2 linked regions of the Homo sapiens genome follow. The protein of the gene in region 2 interacts with the protein of the main gene of each other region in a pairwise test. Each region holds a gene or a part of one and is shown on either strand. Other genes may lie near its edges.

What was found. The genes of interacting proteins can lie anywhere in the genome.
Region 1: the proteins of TRIM23 (region 2) and MORN4 interact in binary tests that used the Homo sapiens proteins (3 or more experiments, as listed by UniProt).

What each region holds. Positions count from the first base shown.
Region 1 is NC_000010.11:97,622,535-97,627,000, forward strand, and holds part of MORN4 (MORN repeat-containing protein 4), read right to left. Parts: intron 1-4,466. UniProt on the Homo sapiens protein: Plays a role in promoting axonal degeneration following neuronal injury by toxic insult or trauma.
Region 2 is NC_000005.10:65,613,242-65,618,673, forward strand, and holds part of TRIM23 (E3 ubiquitin-protein ligase TRIM23), read right to left. Parts: intron 5,015-5,432; coding exon 4,852-5,014; intron 979-4,851; coding exon 857-978; intron 615-856; exon of another isoform or gene 486-614; intron 1-485.

The DNA.
Region 1 (4,466 bases), on a different chromosome or scaffold from region 2:
AAATCCAAAAATTAGCCGGGTGTGGTGGTGCGTTCCTGTAGTCCCAGCTACTTGGGAGGCTGAGGTGGAAGGATCGCTTGAACCCAGGAGGCAGAAGTGCAGTGAGCCAAGATCACGCCACGACACTCCAGCCTGGGCGACAGAGGGAGACCCTGTCTCAAAAAAAAAAAAAAAAACGGAAGAAGAAGAAGAGGGAATTAAGATACCCCCCAAAATCATTAAATATAAACAGAGGCAAATAGTACGTCATTTGATAGACTAAAAAATACAAGCCCTATTTCTTTTTTAATTCCCTAGGTCTCTTCATTCATCCCTTCATCTTTCATTTATTTATTTATTTATTTATTTATTTATTTATTTATTTTTTAGAGACAGGGTCTTGCTCTGTCACCCAGGCTAGAGCACGGTGGCACGATCATAGCTCACTGTAACCTCAAACTCCTGGATTCAAGGCATCCCGTCACCTCAGTCTCCTGAGTAGCTGGGACTACAGGCGCACACTACCACATCTAGCTACCTCCTCATCTTTTCCAGATCTAAGCAATACAATGTTTTCTCCAGTAATTTTGACAATGCAGATTCCTAGGCCCAAACTCAGACTTACTGAATCAGATTCTGTAGTCAGAGCCTGGGAACCTGCAGTTTTAATAAGCACATCATTAGATCCTTACTTCAAAGCTTGTGGCCTACTGCTACAATAAATGGAAATACTGTGTGTGAAAAGTTCTCTGAACTATAAATCACTATTGAAAAGTCCTCTATCAACCAAGCATGGTGGCTCATGCCTGTAATTCCAGCACTTTGGGAGGCTGAGCAGGGACAATTGCTTGAGCCCAGGAGTCTGAGGCTGCAGTAAGTCATGACAGTGCCACTACAGCCTGGGTGACAGAGCGAGACCCTGTCCCCCTCCAAAAAAAAAGTCCCCTCTGATTAATAAGTAACCTAGAGTCTGACCCTCAGGCATCTGACTGAGTTCCAACAGGACAAGGACACATTCTCCTCAGAGTACTGGGGCCAGACCTGGTGGAGAAACAGGAAAGAATTCTTTTTTCTTTTAGAGACAGGGTCTCATTATGTTACCCAGGCTGGACTTGAACTCCTAGGTTCAAGAGATCCTCCAATCCCCTCTTAGACTTCTGAGTAGCTGGAACTACAGGTGCATGCCACTGCTCCCAGCTCAAAACAAGACGGGATTCTTTTTTTTTTTTTTTCTTTTTTTGAGACAGAGTCTCACTCTGTTGCCCAGGCTGGAGTGCAGTGGCATGATCTCGGCTGACTGCAAGCTCTGCCTCCCGGGTTCATGCCATTCTCCTGCCTCAGCCTCCCGAGTAGCTGGGACTACAGGTGCCCACCACGACGCCCCACTAACTTTTTGTATTTTTTAGTAGAGATGGAGTTTCACCGTGTTAGCCAGGATGGTCTCAATCTCCTGACCTCGTGATCCGCCCGCCTTGGCCTCCCAAAGTGCTGGGATTACAGGCATGAGCCACCGTGCCTGGCCGCAAGATGGGATTCTTAAATCTCGGGGGCCTGGCGCCAACAGCTAGCTTCCTTTTCCTTCAAGTCCCAGGGAAGCCAAAACCTCATCCAGTCAAGATGGAGTTCCAAAGAGTGGGTTCCATAGTTTCATAGCACAAAAGGGGTCTGGTATATTTTATGCAAAAGTGATGCTTTAAATGTTCAACTAAAACAACCCATATGTTAAATTTGCTTTCTCCACATTGTCATGGTGGACAGTGCTAGATTATTTATATTTCAATTCAGGTGGCACAACCCTCTCTAATAATCAATTGCACTAACCCCAGAGAAGCTGTCTGAAATACCTTTATAACAGAAGCTAACATTTACTGACCTCTTACTGTGTTCCATCAGTGTTGTTTATTTGTTTTGTTTTAAGAGATGGGGTCTCACTCAGTTACCCAGCCTGGAATGCAGTAGTGTGATTGTGATTAGAGCTCACTGCAGTCTCAAACTTCTGGGCTAAAGTGATCCTCCCGCTTCATCCTCTCCAGTAGCTGGGACTAGAGGTGTGTGCCAACACACCCAGCTACTTTTCAAATTTTTTGTTGAGATGGGTATCGCTATGGTGCCTAGACTGGTCCCGAACTCCTGGCCTCAAGTGATTCTTCCTCATCAGCTTCCCAAGTAGCTGGGATTACTGGTGTGAGCATCAGTGTTTTTTGTTTTGTTTTGTTTTTGAGACGGAGTTTCACTGTTATTCTTCCCCAGGCTGGAGTGCAATGGCGCGATCTTTGCTCACTCCAACCTCCGCCTCAGCCTCCCAAGTAGCTGGGATTACAGGCATGCGCCACCACGCCTGGCTAATTTTGTATTTTCAGTAGAGATGGGGTTTCACCATGTTGGTCAGGTGACCTCAGGTGATCCTGACCTCAGGTGATCCACCTGCCGCGGCCTCCCAAAGTGCTAAGAATACAGGCGTGAGTCACCGCACACGGCATGAGCATCAGTGTTTTTAAAATATATTATCTAATTTCATCTCACAACAACTTTTTGGGGTGGGTATTATTATTATTTCCACTTTAGGGATGAGGAAACTAAGGTGCAGAGAGGATAAGTAAATTAACTAAGGTCATACATGTGGAAACTAACACGTGAAAGTTAGAATCAGAGCTCTGACAGCTGGCCTTGCTGGCACAAGTTCTTACAGTAACTTGCTAACTTATACCATACTATCCTATCTGGCCTCCCAGGATAATATGGTGGTGTTGTAGACTCTGAGCACAGGAGGACTTGAGTTCAAATATGAGTTCACTGTATAATTATGGGCAAGGTATTTAAGTATCTCTAAATCTCAGTCTCCTCATCTGTAAAGTGGAGATAAGATATGTATTTCACATAGTTGGCAGGTGGATTAAATTAAATATCTGAGAGTCAGTGGGTGACAGAAAAGAAAAATAAAAGAAAGAAAATGACACACACGTAAGTACCTAGAACACTGCTAGGGCCTGTCCACTAAATGTTAGTTTCTTTCCTCTTTCAAAGTTTTACACTTAAACTCACACATATACTTACTGTAATGAAAACTTCTCTAGGTCTTTCCTCAGTAAAAACTGCTACCAATGTAATTCAAACAACACTTTGAAAAAGAAAATCTCAGCAATTTTGACTAAAGAGCTGAATACTAAGTAGAGGAAAAACAAACTATAGTTGCCACCCATCCACTCTTTATCAACATCCTACAGGATATTTTTATTTTGGCCTCATGTCATAACGATTTTTTGTTTTTTAAGGAGACAGTGTGTCGCTCTGTTGCCCATGCTGGTGTGCAATCGCTTGATCATAACTCACTGCAACCCTGAACTTGTGGGCTCAAGCAACCCTTCTGCCCCAGCCTCCCAAGTAGCTAGGACTATAGGCACACACCACCATGCCCAACTAACTTTTTTGTAGAGACCGTGTCCCACTATGTTGCCCAGGCTAATCTCAAACTCCTAGCCTCAAGCAATCTCTGGCCTTGGCCTCCGAAAGTGCTAGGATTATAAGCATGAGCCACCACACCCAGCCTCATGCCTTTTTTTTTTTTTTTTTTAAAGAGAACAAGCGGGCTGGGCACAGTGGCTCACGCCTGTAATCCCAGCACTTTGGGAGGCTAAGATGGATCACCTGAGGTCAGGAGTTCGAGACCAGCCTGGCCAACATGGTGAAGCCCTGTCTTTACTAAAAACACAAAAATTAGCCAGGCGTGGTGGCACATGCCTGTAGTCCCAGCTACTTGAGAGGCTGAGACAGGAGAATCACTTGAATCTGGGAGGTGGAGGTTGCAGTGAGCCAAGATCATGCCACTGGTCTCCAGCCTGGGTGACAGAGCGAGACTCTGACTCAAAAATAATAATAATAATAATCATAATCATAATCATAATCATAATCATAATCATAATATGTTCTGATGCTTGTTCTCTCTCTTTTTTTTTTTTTCTTGAAACGGAGTCTTGCTCTGTGGCCCAGACTGGAGTGCAGTGGTGCAATGTCGGCTCACTGCAACCTCCACCTCCCGAGTTCAAGTAATTCTCCTGCCTCAGCCTCTCGAATAGCTGGGATTTCAGGTGACCGTCACCATGGCTGGCTAATTTTTGTATTTTTAGTAGAGACAGGGCTTCACCATGTTGGTCAGGCTGGTCTCGAACTCCTGACCTCAGGTGAGCCACCCATCTCAGCCTTCCAAAGTGCTGGGATTACAGGCATGAGCCACTGTGCCCAGATTTTTTTTTTTTTTTTTTTTTAGACAGAGTTTCATTCCTGTGGCCCAGGCTGGAGTGCAATGGTGCAGTCTCAGCTCACTGTAACCTCTGCCTCCCAGGTTCAAGCGATTCTCTTGCCCCAGCCTCCCAAGTAGCTGGGATTACAGGCCCCTGCCACCACGCCCAGCTAATTTTGTATTTTCAGTAGAGACAGGGTTTTACCATGTTGGCCAGGCTGGTCTTGAACTCCTGACCTCAGGTGATCCT
Region 2 (5,432 bases):
AAATAAAGATTAAAGATTTAGCACAGAAAGAACTGCATAACTTTTAGAAAACAGAGTGTTGCAGTTTGAAATTCATTTCACTGATTCACTTTAGTATAAAGAAATCATCATCTAATGAAAGAGAAGTGAAAGCAATCCGACATTTTTTTTCCTTCATACAAAATATGTGGTTTGCAAGTTGATCACCAAAATCATTAACTGATATTTACTCCAAATATATTTTTACCCATAACAGCCTACGAAAGCCATGTCCTATAGTACATATGTGCAGCTATGCAAACACATAAGTGCTAAAAATATACTTTTACATTATTAAAATCCAGTGTTCATGGATTCTGATATTTACTAGACATCTACCTGTATGGATAAAGACAGTACATCTATACAAAGTTTAACCTTTTCTTGAAGCTATAACAGTAACAATTCCCTCAGAAGTTACTGCTATCTTTAAGGCATTTTCCCCTCTGTATTAAATGGCCTCTTACATCGAGTTTTTCTTTCTCTCATTGAGTTTTACTGTTGACTACTTTTGCATCCTCTTCTCTACTGTTGCTTACATATCTTTCTTACTATTCCATAATCTTCTTCCTCTTTTCACTTTATTCTTGGTAGAACTGAATTATGATAAGGAAAAAAAAGTTCACACATAAAGCATAGTTTAGGCATAGGATTTTCAAATAATTCTAGTTTTTTCTCTTGGGAATAGTGTTGGCCTTCAGAACTGTAATGTAATGAAAAGTTGTGTTTCTAGAAATTTACCTGCTGAAATAAATGAAGTAATATTGTGCTAATAATGGCATCTATTAAAAGAAAAATTCATGCTCGTAACAAATATTTCACCAAGTATGATCAATACCTCTCCAGATATCCCAATGGATTCTTCTGCAGCTCCATACTGACCAATAGGCCCATTCTGCAGTCGTTCCAAAAGCTCCAATAAAGCAAAATTTTTTTTCAATCCCCAGACACCTGAATCACCTAGAATAAATATAAAAACAAAAACTAAATCTAACAAAATGGACTATTAATCATTTTACCCATACCTCAAAAGTAATTTCTAATATAGTTCAGTAGTTAATGTCTAAATTTTTAAAATTCAAATTTTCCCCATTTTTAATACCAAAATAATTGCTTTGTTAATGCTCTCTTAAAAAACAGAAGAATCCTTCAGCCTTCCAAGTAGAAACACACTTTAAAATTTATTATTTTTTGGCCAGGTGCTTTGGCCCACGCCTGTAATCCCAGCAGTTTGGGAGGCTGAGGCGGACAGATCACTTAAGGCCAGGAGTTCAAGACCAGCCCAGTCAACATGGTGAAATCCCGTCTCTACTAAAAATACAAAAATTAGCCAGGTGTGGCGTCAGGCGCCCATAATCCCAGCCACTCAGGAGGCTGAGGGACGAGAATTGCTTGAACCCGGGAGGTGGAGGTTGCAGTGAGCCAAGATCACACCACTGCACTCCAATCTGGATGACAGAGCAAGACTCTATCTCAAAAAAAAAAAAAAAAAATCTAAATACACATAAAAAAAATTATGGTGGTAAAGGCTGCACAACAATATGAATGTACTTAATGTCCCTAAACTTAGAAATGGTTAAAACGGCAAATTTTATGTTATACATATATTTTGCCACAGTTTAAAAAAATTATTTAAATCTCTTTTACTTTTTTTTTGAGACAGAGTCTTGCTATGTTGCCCAGGCTGGTGTGCAGTAGCGTGATCTCTGCTCATTGCAATCTCCACCTTCCGGGTTCAAGTGATCCTCGTGCCCCAGCCTCCCAAGTGGCTGGGACTACAGGTGTGTGCCACTATGCCCAGCTGATTTTTTTGTATATTTTGGTAGAGATGGGGTTTCGCCATGCTGGTCAGGCCGGTCTCAAAACTCCTGGCCTAAAGTGATCTGACTGCCTCAGCCTCCCAAAGTGCTGGGATTACAGGTGTGAGCCACCGTGCCCAGCCTATTTCTCTATCATTTAATTTTACAAGTCCTATTTTGTCATTGACTTTTACTATACATGCTAAAACAAGCATTTTCAAATACTTTTTGCAGCAACCTACCTTAAGAAATACATATAACATTGTAACCCAGGACAACATACACACTCTTCCTGAACCTATGAATAAAAGTCAGATCCTTTAGCAGAAGGAATATTTGTTATGGTAAACTCCTATGCAACAAATAACATCTGATATAGCTGCCACCTAATACATATTCATTAAATGAATAAATATATAAAAGGTTGATGGAGTCATTGCCTGCAGGGCCCCCCTTCCTCCTGGCTCTTAAAAAAAAAAAAGCCATTCTGTGTTGTGGTTCTCCCAAAAAAACTGGACTGAACATATCTATCCTCAGCCTTGCCCCTAGAAGGCTTTCTCCTTAATTTTTAACACATATTCTACAACAAGCTGAGTTCTATCTATTTACATAAAGGTTAAGAAGTACACTAAGTGATCATTTAAAAATATAGTCTTGACAATTTTCTAAATATCCAGTCACTATATAATGAATATATACAAATAAACCTCTAGCATTATTACTAGGTAGTGCCTAATATTTATATCACTTAATTCTGTGTCAAAACAACTCTATAATCTCAATGGCTTAACACAACAAAGATTTATTTTTTGCATCATGCAACATCTCAGGGATTAGGGAAGACAAGAGAGACTCTGTTCCCCACTGACCACAAACAGGGACACAGCCTACCGAGCCTCCAACCATCTGGACCACCTCACTGCAGCAAGGAGAAGAATTTACTTTGAAAATCATAAACCTTCTCTTATTAACTTCTACCTGGATGCTAACACTTCACTTCTGCTTACATTTCACTGATCAATGAACATCACACAGTGATGCGTAAGAGGGCAAGGAAGTGTAATTTCACCATATGAGCAGAAGAAAATCAGGAATATTGCTGAATGGTATTAATAACTACTCATATTCTTCTTGGACTAGAGAGAAATTCTGATTCAGGATTCAGAGAAGTCAGAGAGGAGGATGGATGTATTCAGTCTAGTTCCCTGTCATAAATTTCTAGTTTTGTTAAACATTGAGGATAGTAACTCTTCACATTGTGGTATTAATGTAGAGAAGGTAAAGTGCTCTTCAAAAAGGTAGAAGAGCCAGGTGTGGTGGCTCATGCCTGTAATCCCAGCACTTTGGGAGGCTGAGGTGGATCACTTGAGGTCAGGAGTTCGAGACCAGCCAGGCCAACATGGTGAAACCCCATCTCTACTAAAAATACACAAATTAGTCAGGCGTGGTGGCAGGTGCCTGTAATCCCAGCTACTCAGGAGGCTGAGGCAGGAGAATCGCTTGAACCCCAGAGGTGAAGGCTGCAGTGAGCTGAGATCGCGCCACAGCACTCCAGCCTGGGTGACGGAGTAACACTCTGCTTTAAAAAAAAAAAAAAAAAAAAAAGTAGAAGAAAGGTTCTATTCTCTATTTGAAAAACATTACTATTTCTTTAAGCATAGTTTTTTTGTTTGTTTGTCTGAGACCAAGTTTTGCTCTTGTTGCCCAGGCTGGAGGGCAATGGCGTGATCTAGGCTCACTGCAACCTCCATCTCCCAGGCTCAAGCGATTCTCCTGCCTCAGCCTCCCAAGTAGCTGGGATTACAGGCATCCACCACCATGCCTAGCTAATTTTTACATTTTTAGAAGAAAAGGGGTCTCACCATTTTGGCCAGGCTGGCCTTGAACTCCTGACTTCAGGTGATCCACCCATCTTAGCCTTGCAAAGTTCTGGATTACAGGTATGAGCCACCTCACCTGGCCTAAGTATAGTTTTATATAAAGAAATAGTATGATATATGCATATTTCACATAATAAAAGACCAAATAAAAGTACAGAGACTTTCCCAATCCCTATTATTTCTTGGCTACTGGTAAGTTAATGCTATCTATAATGTTATTACTGTCTATTAGTTGTCAGGCAAATAGACTATTTATATACATCAAAGATCACCAAAACCTTAAAAATCCTTTTCTTTCTCCAGAAAATATTTTAAAACCATGTTTCTTAGCATTTCAAAGTCTTCCAGCCTAAAATTATAGGTACTCTTGCTTCCTTTTTTGGTGGATAAATTATTTTGAATGTGTTCCACTTGAAAAATAGTATGAATATATTAAAACTGTCTTAGATAGTGCAACTGACCTGGAAAAAAAATGGCAACCTTAAACTCTTTTGGAGAAAACTCCCTTATCAAAAAGAGTAAACTTACAGAACTTACGTTTGTAAAATAACTGTTCAAATGTTAGTAAATGCTATTATTTCCAAATCTGGTATCTGAAAATAACTTAGTTTGAAATACGTAAAGAAAAGTTTTAAAAGTATACAGAAAACTGCAAAAAAAAGCCACAAACCCTTCAAACTCATTTTAACAGAAAATAAAGAGTAATTATCACAAGCTACAAACACTTCTGTCCTTGATATTAGTAAATAAAAACATGGTGAGACTCAAATGACTTATCTGTATTTTCATTATTGGCTTATTTATTTGTAAAGAAAACATTGTTCTATTGGGTTTATGGCTTCAGGCAAATGATTCACTCTGTGATACACATTCTTATTTATTTGAATCAGGGTAGCACGTTTTTCTCAGGTGTCTTAAAGCTCTTTACAGATAAGTATTGAATATAAACATCTCAGAAGATAAAATAAAATTAGTAACTAAGAGTGAGATAGTTTATAGCTTGAAGATTATTGACCTTAATAGAAACTTAGGCTTTCTGAAACTTTCTGGGAATTTTATCATTCTAAAAATCAAGTGGAAGGACATTGTTTCCTATGACATTTGCATTACATGAACAATTTTCAATCTTAAATCCATACAAATACTTTTCCTACCTAGGTCTGTTACTTGTCGATCAAATGGGCAACGGATTGCTCTTCCATGAAGAGGTAGGCGAGTGAGACAGTCATGACAGACGGTATGGCCACAAAGCAAAAGACGGGGAACTTTGTCTCCTTGCAAAGAAAAGACATCTTCACAAACTCCACACTCTAGCACCTAATATTTGAAAAGGAAGGATGTGCTCTTTAAACAATTTTAAAAGCATACATATTTTAGGTATATAAGAAAATTCACCTAATATATTGAATCAACATTGTTACTTTATTCCTCTATGAAAAAAAAACTATGTAGGTTGTAAAATCTTGAATCACTTTTAAGTCATTCCATTTGACCGACCCTGTCAAAATTATATCATAATGAAATATCTTTGAAATACTAAGTGTTGGGGCAAAGATGCTGTAAATTAACATCTTTGTTATCTTTTGAAAATTATGATTTCAGTCATTACATCTGAATCTGTACAAACAATATGTAATTCTACTGAAGGTGGGTTCTTAAGCAATTTCTCTGCAACTACCTAACCCATCATTAATTTCAACACAAATAAACTATCATTAATTTCAACAAAAATAAT